2 linked regions of the Homo sapiens genome follow. The protein of the gene in region 1 purifies or fractionates together with the protein of each later gene. This does not show direct contact. Each region holds a gene or a part of one and is shown on either strand. Other genes may lie near its edges.

Region 1 (3,754 bases):
ATCCTCTCCAAGGAAAGTTATCACTGGAAATACCCAAGGCCCTGATTGTATGCACTGTGCTAGGGAGAAAGACATTCAGATGCTGAAATAAAAAACTAGGGAATTAGTAAAAATTGGATCTCTAAGACAAATAAATTGATCAAACTATAATAATAATCAAACTTCTAATAATGTATAACCTCTCCAGAGATGAACTCCAAGAACAGCTCAATGGTTTGTTGAAAAAAAAAAAGAGACCCCTGGTTTATGCACTTTCTCCCCAAGGGAGACATGGGGTTGATCCATCGGGTCTTCTTCAATTGCACAGTTGGCAGGCTGGCCATTCCCATGGAGGGTCATTCTCCTTTTAAAGAATGGTTAGGTAACCTTCAGCAGCCATAGGGCACTTTAGACATAAAGAGACAAAGCCATCACTGACCCAGCCCAGCCACGAGAATTCCTGAGTTGGAAGAACCAGGGTGTTCACCTCCCACTCAACAGAGAATTCCCTTTAAGGACAGAGCGCTCTCTCATGTGTGGTGGCCCTTGCCTCTGTTGGGCGGCTTTGATGGCTAGAAGGTGTTCCTTTAACTTGAGCTAAAACAGCCTTTCTCTCTTCCACTCATTGATCTTAGCCTGCCCTCCAGCATGAAAAGAAAACCTCTTCAAATGACTGGCTTGCTTGGAAAGATCTGAGAGCAGCCACATACAGGAACAACTCTCCTCGTGACAAGCAGCAAAACAAGTGGTGAGTGGAAAAGAGCAGGCCCTGAACAGCACCAGTCAATATGCTTGGCCTCTCTGGTCTCTTTTCACTTTGTCGGTTTGGGAGCCTGGGCCTCTGCCAGGATGCTTATCTGTAGGAGTTCCAAGAGAATCAGGAGATGGGGATGCTTTTGGGAAATGATGCCTGGGGCTCCCTAGAAGAGAAGCTGGAAAGCTACCCACAGAAAGGCCAAATAGAATTTCTGAAAGCCCCAGGTTAGTGGAAGCCTAAAGAGCATGTCAGGCCAGGTTGCCATACTGCTTCCAAAAGCTGCAAACCATCATCACAGTGGCAGATTTGTCAGCTAAAAGAGCAAATGGGGGAAACACTTTGCTAAGAATCCAGGCTTGCTCTAAAAGGGAAATATGCTCAGGACCATAAGACAAATTTTCTGTAAGTTTAACATTTGTTTAGCTTGCCATTTTTTCTTAATGGGTAAAACATACATATATTCCTCTTAACTGTTTTCAGAGGGTCCACCTTTCAATATGCACTGCATCCTTCCAGGCCTGCGGCCTCTGGAACTGGATAGTTGGGGAAAGTGAATTGGAAGAGATGGGGAAGGGTCCACAGCTCCTTGTCGCAGGCCAACTGCATTAATGCAGAGCTTGGTGCTCAAGTCTGGGGGTGGGCCATATGGACTGTGAGTCATGGGGGAGGGGAGGAATTTGTGGCCACAGAGGGAAATTCATAAACAAAACCAGAAAGACCAGAAAGAGACTTTTTCTAATACAGCAGTGTTTCGGCTGGGACAGGTTGGCCGGACTCTCCAGGAACGTGGTGAAGAGCGTGGGGGAGGCGGCTGAGGCAGGGCAGAGCCCAGGCTGCAGAGCTGTGTGCTTCACAAGTTGGCTCTGTGGTCGGGAAGGCTCCACGGCCATAAGGACCCTGGCCTTTGATTTCCTGGGAGGAACAGCACTTGGAACGGAGTAAGAATTTCAGGCAATCACCTGGTTTCCCCAATGGCTTTCTTGTCTCACGGACAGTTTAACAAAGCTGGCAGAGTCCTGTAACTAGGATCTGTAACTTTGGGGGTAAGGGCAAGTAGGAACAGACATCCAAAACAACTGAGTGCTGGGATAAAGGCTTGACCGGAAAGATTTCAGGGGCCTGGGCTTTGTTTGCATTCTGGGAAACTTCTCAGTCTCTTGGTCAGAAATGAAGCAGCACCTTTCACATCTAAGTACAGGCCCCAGGCTGGATACTGGTAGATGACTGGGGCGGGGACTCAGCTCTTCCACTGGATGGGTGAATATACCTGGCAGGTCAATTACTTAAGTTGAGCCTCAGTTTCCCTGTCAGTAAAATGGGGATAATGAGTCACCCCCTGCCTCCCATTCTGGGATGTTGTGAGCTGCTAAGGAGCTAGTATCTGTGAGTACACCTGCTAAATAAAGCACAATATTCATGTGAGCTATCTGTGTCATAGGGCAGGAAAACAGTCTAATGTCTTTGAGAATGAAAACAGGCACATCTGGGCTGAGGTCACAGAGGGATGCACGCGTGTCAGCAAGGCTTAGTGGGGCGCTGGGTTGGGGGCGCTGCCTCCTTGGACTCTCCAGGGTGCTAAGTTTAGAAAGACCAGTAGCACCAGGGACGGGGCAGTGCTCAGTCAGTGGCCCATCTGCTGACTTGAAGGTGCCAGATGGGAGCAGGGCTGAGAGCTCCATGTACTTCCCACTGCTTGACTTTCAAAGGGCACCATTAGCAGATGCCAGGTCCAAGGAGGGGATCATCAGTACATGGTGATGCTTAAAGGACTGACTGTGGCTTTCAAACATCTTGTGTAAAAAGCCCCTGGGTACCACGGGGTGCATTCACCGGAGGCAGGGGTGGTGACTAAGTTGGTTGGCAGCGCCTGGGCCAGGGGGCCCGTGGTGGAGCAGCAGCCAGCCAGGCGCACTGCTGAAGCCCCCGGGAAGGCAGTGATGCTGCCCTACTGATGGGGGTGCAGGAGTGTTATCTGCTCCCCAGGAAGCCCGTCTGCCTGTTGGCCACACGGGTGCAGGAGGCACAGCAGGCGGTCTTGTAGTAGTTGTAGACACAGAGTCTTGCCTGGACCACCACGTTGCAGTTGTAGTACTTGTCCTTGCAGTTTTCATCTGTAGCGAAAGAGAATGAACAGAAGACTCCCTGAGCACAAGAGGCAGCCTGGACCAGTGGGAAGAGAAAGGGCAGTGGCTGTGGCTTTAACTCCTGCGCTGCTGTTTATTACCATTGTGGGGTATGAATGTGTGCCAAGGGCTCACAGGTTTTTCTCTTTCTTTTAAACACGATAAGGGAAATAGGTATAGAGAATAAGTTACTCATCTGTGTCCTCACTTCTCTCTGATCACTTCCTCCTTCATCCTCATCACTCCAGAGGTAATCAGAAGTTCCAAATTTGGCGTTTCTTATCCCCAAACATTTCTTTACACTTAAACTCTATGTGAGGGAATCCCTCACCACTCTGTGACATTTAAACATAAAAGATACATACTGTATAAGCTCCTTGGCAACTTGCTCGACATTGAATTTGTGCGATTCATTCATATTTGATGAATGCTATATTTTCATTATTGAATTTTCTTGTGTATATAATCCACAATTTAATCATTTTCTATTGATGGACATTTAAGTTGGACATTAATCCAATTTTTTTTTTCTAGTGCAAACAATGCTTTTAAGTAGTTTTGTTACCATCCTCTGCCTGGGCCTTGCTGGGTCATAAGGTATATCCAACTTTGCTAGATACAGTCAGTTTGCTCTCCAAAGTCGGTATAACTGTTTATGTTCCTGTCAGTGAAACAGAAGAATTCTCTTTTTGCCATATGTTTTAGTTTTTGCTGAGCTAGTGAATGTGAAATGATTCCCACGTGAGGCTGAACATATCATGTATATTTGCCATTCAAGCTTCCTTTTCTGTGAATTGCTTTTCTGATCTTTTGCTCATTTTCTGATTTAGTTAACTTTAAAAAATGATTCACGAAAATTCTTTATATCTAATGGATCTGATCCTTTGTGAGTTAG
Region 2 (3,754 bases), on another chromosome or scaffold:
CATCAGCACTAGAAATGAAGACACAGCATCTACTGATTTGAGAATAGAATGACATCAATATTCGCTTTTCAAAAATTTAACATTTTTTCAATGCAAAAAAGTATATTTTGAATGTAATTATAACTCTACAAAAACTCAGTCTCATCCTCCTTTTAAACTTAAATATAAATGATCTATTTTAAGTCTAGATGTCTCTGTAGACTCAACACAGGGATTCAGTGTCATTTCTGAACGTGTCCTTGCTTATTTTTCCCATTTAGTGTATTTGCAAAATATCTTTTAGTATGAACTCTAGTGTTTTCTAAGCTATCATTTTTGAACAAATGTTATTCCACATTTATGAGATTTGTTGGGTTTCTCTACAAATTTTCTGAAAGTTTAAGCAACTGATGCAAGTCTTCCATCTAGTATAATTGTAACATTTTTTTCAGAAGAAATACTCTTGTGTGCTCTGGAGACTTATATTTCATGAAAGGTCTTTCAATAGTAATTACATTTATGATAACTTTATTAAGTCTGAACTCTGATGTAAAGTGGGATGCGAGCAGATACTAACGGCTTTGCCTATTTTTATATTTGTTTATTTTTTTCTCAAGTATGAATGCTTTCATGTACAGTCAGGTGTGAGAACTGGGTGAAGGCTTTGCCACACTTTTCACACTTGTAGGGTTTCTCTCCAGTATGAATTCTCTTATGTACAATAAGGTTTGAGGACTGGGTAAAGTTTTTTCCACATTCGTCACATTTGTAGGGTTTCTCTCCAGTATGGGTTTTCTTATGTTTGGTAATGTCTGAGAACCACATGAAGACTCTGCCACATTCTTCACACTTGTAGGGTTTCTCTCCAGTATGAATTCTCTTATGTACAATAAGGTTGGAGGACTGGGTAAAGTTTTTTCCACATTCGTCACATTTGTAGGGCTTCTCTCCAGTATGGGTTTTCTTATGCTTAGTGAGGTCTGATAACTGCTTAAAGATGTTGCCACATTCTTCACACGTGTAGGGTTTTTCTTCAGAATGAGTTCTCTTATGGTTAGAAAGGCTTGAGCAAGTTCTGAAGACCTTCCCACATTCTTCACATTGGTAGGGTTTCTCTCCGGTGTGAATCCTCCTGTGTTCACTGAGGTGTGAGGACTGTGTATAGGCTTTCCCACATTCGTCACATTTGTATGGTTTCTCACCAGTGTGAATTCTCTTATGTTTAGTAAGGTCTGAGAACCACTTGAAGATGCTGTCACATTCCTCACATTTGAAAGGTTTCCCTCCAATCTCATTTCTCTGGTGTTTGGAAGGATTTGGGCTGTGGTTAAAACCTTTGTACCATGTTTCACATTTGGAGAGCTTCTCTCCAGCAAGAATCATCTGTTGATTAGAAAGGCTTGAGCAAGAGATAAAGACACTGCTGCACTCTTCATATTTGCAGGGTTTTTCCTCAGTACCATGCTCATGTTCAGTAAGGTGGGAGCACTGGTTAAATACTTTGCCAAATTCTTCACATCTGTAATGTTCCCCTCCGGCATAAATTCTATTTTTAGTAAGGACTGAGCAAGTTTTAATGACGTTGTTACATTCTTGACACTTGTAAGGTTTCTCTCCAGTGTCAATGTTCTCAGGTTCAGTAAAGTGTGAGCACTGGATAAAGGTTTTGCCACATTCTCCACATTTTTGGAATTTTTTTCCAGTGTGAATTTTCTGATGTTCAGTTAGGAATGAGAGCATTTGAAAGGATTTGCCACATTCTTGACATTTGAAAGGTTTCTCTCCAGTATTACTTATATTACGTCTATGTAAATTTGAAAAGTTATCAAAGATTTTAACATATTTATTATATTGAAAGATTTTGCTATGGGTAGTTGATGAACATTGGTTAAGTCCATTATAATCTTTTTGCAACTTACACTCATCTAAACTTTCCCAGTCTTTCCTTAAATATAAATTATCAAGGCCACAATTTCCATATCCTCTCAGTATTCTTTTTGGGAATGCATCTTGTATGCCCTGCTCTGGCAGAAGGTCTTGGGTAAAATGAGAAGACATAGCTGAAAAAAAAAAAAAAAGTTATCCGACTTACTAGACACAGATGAATACACTTTATGAATCTAATCTATAAAATAATACTGGGTACATTAGCAAAATGGCATAAAAAATACCACAGGCCCTAATTTCTGTATAAACATATAAATGTAACAATACCTAGTGAGAAGATGCATCTGAACTCTAAAAACCATTTCACAGTTTGCAGCACCCCAGGTGAGCACAGTGCTAGGAGCCAGATAAGAAGAAAAACAGTCTGTTACGTTTACCCACTGCAGCCCCCGCTCCTCCGCAGTATAGCATCATGCCTTTAAGAGTACACCCTCAGCTCTTGGCTTCTCCTTCAAAAGAGAAAGCAAATACTGGCACAAGTGTTTTTACTTTTGGCCTTTTGAAGCTTTGGCAAAGATTGGTTTCTGCCCCCTGTGACACGGAGTGCTGAGAGAAATGGTGGTACTCTGAGTGACAGGCTGGGTCTGCTGAGACCGAAAGGAAATACCCATGACAGCGGTAGGAAGGCTGCAGCAGCAGCACCAGGCGACAAGTGTATTGTGTGATTCCAGGGCACTACAAAGAAAGCTGAGAAACCCTCTTTAAATGAAAAATACACACACAATTCCACACAAGACACATCCCAGAACAGGCTTAAGAGGCCTCTAGAATCTGGGCCTATTTGTTTTAGATGACCCCAGGAGAAAGGCACATTATAAAGGTTGTGGCAGGAGGCTTGTTGTTAATGCCTGAATCTCAGTCAAAGATGACATGTACAAAGTATTAGGGTCACATGGCATAATCAAAGAAATAAAAAAAGTTCAGAAATCAACCCTAAAATGATGGAGATGCATAAATTAACTGAAGAAAATAAAATTACCATTTGAATAATGCTCAATGAGTAAAAATGGCAAAACAGCAAACTAAGTAAAATTAGGAAAATAAGGATACCAATAAAAAGACATGAAGTATGAAAAACAGACTGAGAAACTGAGGTATGAAAGGAAATAATTACTGAGAAATTCTCAAAAGTAAGAAAAAAATACAAAAAAATCAAGAAGCTCAACACATCAACTAGTATAAACAAAAAGGGACATAAGACACATTATAACCACAGTTTCCAAAGTCAAAGGAGAAAAGAATCCTGAAAGCAGCAAGTGAAAAGCAAGGTACATGCTCTTAGGAGATTACCAGTGAATTTGTCCACAGAAACATTGAGGCCTGGCTGGGCACGGTGGTTCACACCTGTAATCCCAGCACTTTGGGAGGCTGAGGCAGGCAGATCGCTTGAGCCCAGGAGTTCAAGACAAGCCTGAGTAGCATGGTGAAATCCCATCTCTACAGAAAATACAAAAAAATTAGCTGTGTATGCTGTTGCACACTTGTAGTCCCAACTACTCAGAAGGCTGGAGTGGGAGAATCACCTGAACCTGGGAAGTGGAGGCCGCAGTGAGCCACGATCACACCACTGCACTTCCAGCCTGAGTGACAGAATAAATCCCTGTCTCAAAAAAAGTACAACCTGAAGCAAGAAGGGAATTGGATGAGATAGTCTAATTGCTGAACACAAAACTTCCAAGCAAGAATAATATAACCAGTGTCCTACAAAATCATAAAAAATAAAGGCTTTCTAACATAACCAAGGGCTACATTACCACTACACATGTCAAACAAGAAATGGTAAAAGGAGTCCTTTCCACTGAAAATAATGCGATGCTATAAAATAATA

The links.
Region 2: the proteins of THSD4 (region 1) and ZNF195 purify together in Homo sapiens (affinity purification with mass spectrometry; 2 studies listed by BioGRID and IntAct, with this or other methods). This does not show direct contact.

What each region holds. Positions count from the first base shown.
Region 1 is NC_000015.10:71,776,325-71,780,078, reverse strand, and holds part of THSD4 (thrombospondin type-1 domain-containing protein 4 isoform 1 precursor), read right to left. Parts: intron 2,848-3,754; coding exon 2,705-2,847; 3' UTR 1-2,704. UniProt on the Homo sapiens protein: Promotes FBN1 matrix assembly.
Region 2 is NC_000011.10:3,358,527-3,362,280, forward strand, and holds part of ZNF195 (zinc finger protein 195), read right to left. Parts: intron 3,364-3,754; coding exon 3,217-3,363; intron 2,263-3,216; coding exon 2,194-2,262; intron 2,040-2,193; coding exon 592-2,039; 3' UTR 1-591. UniProt on the Homo sapiens protein: May be involved in transcriptional regulation.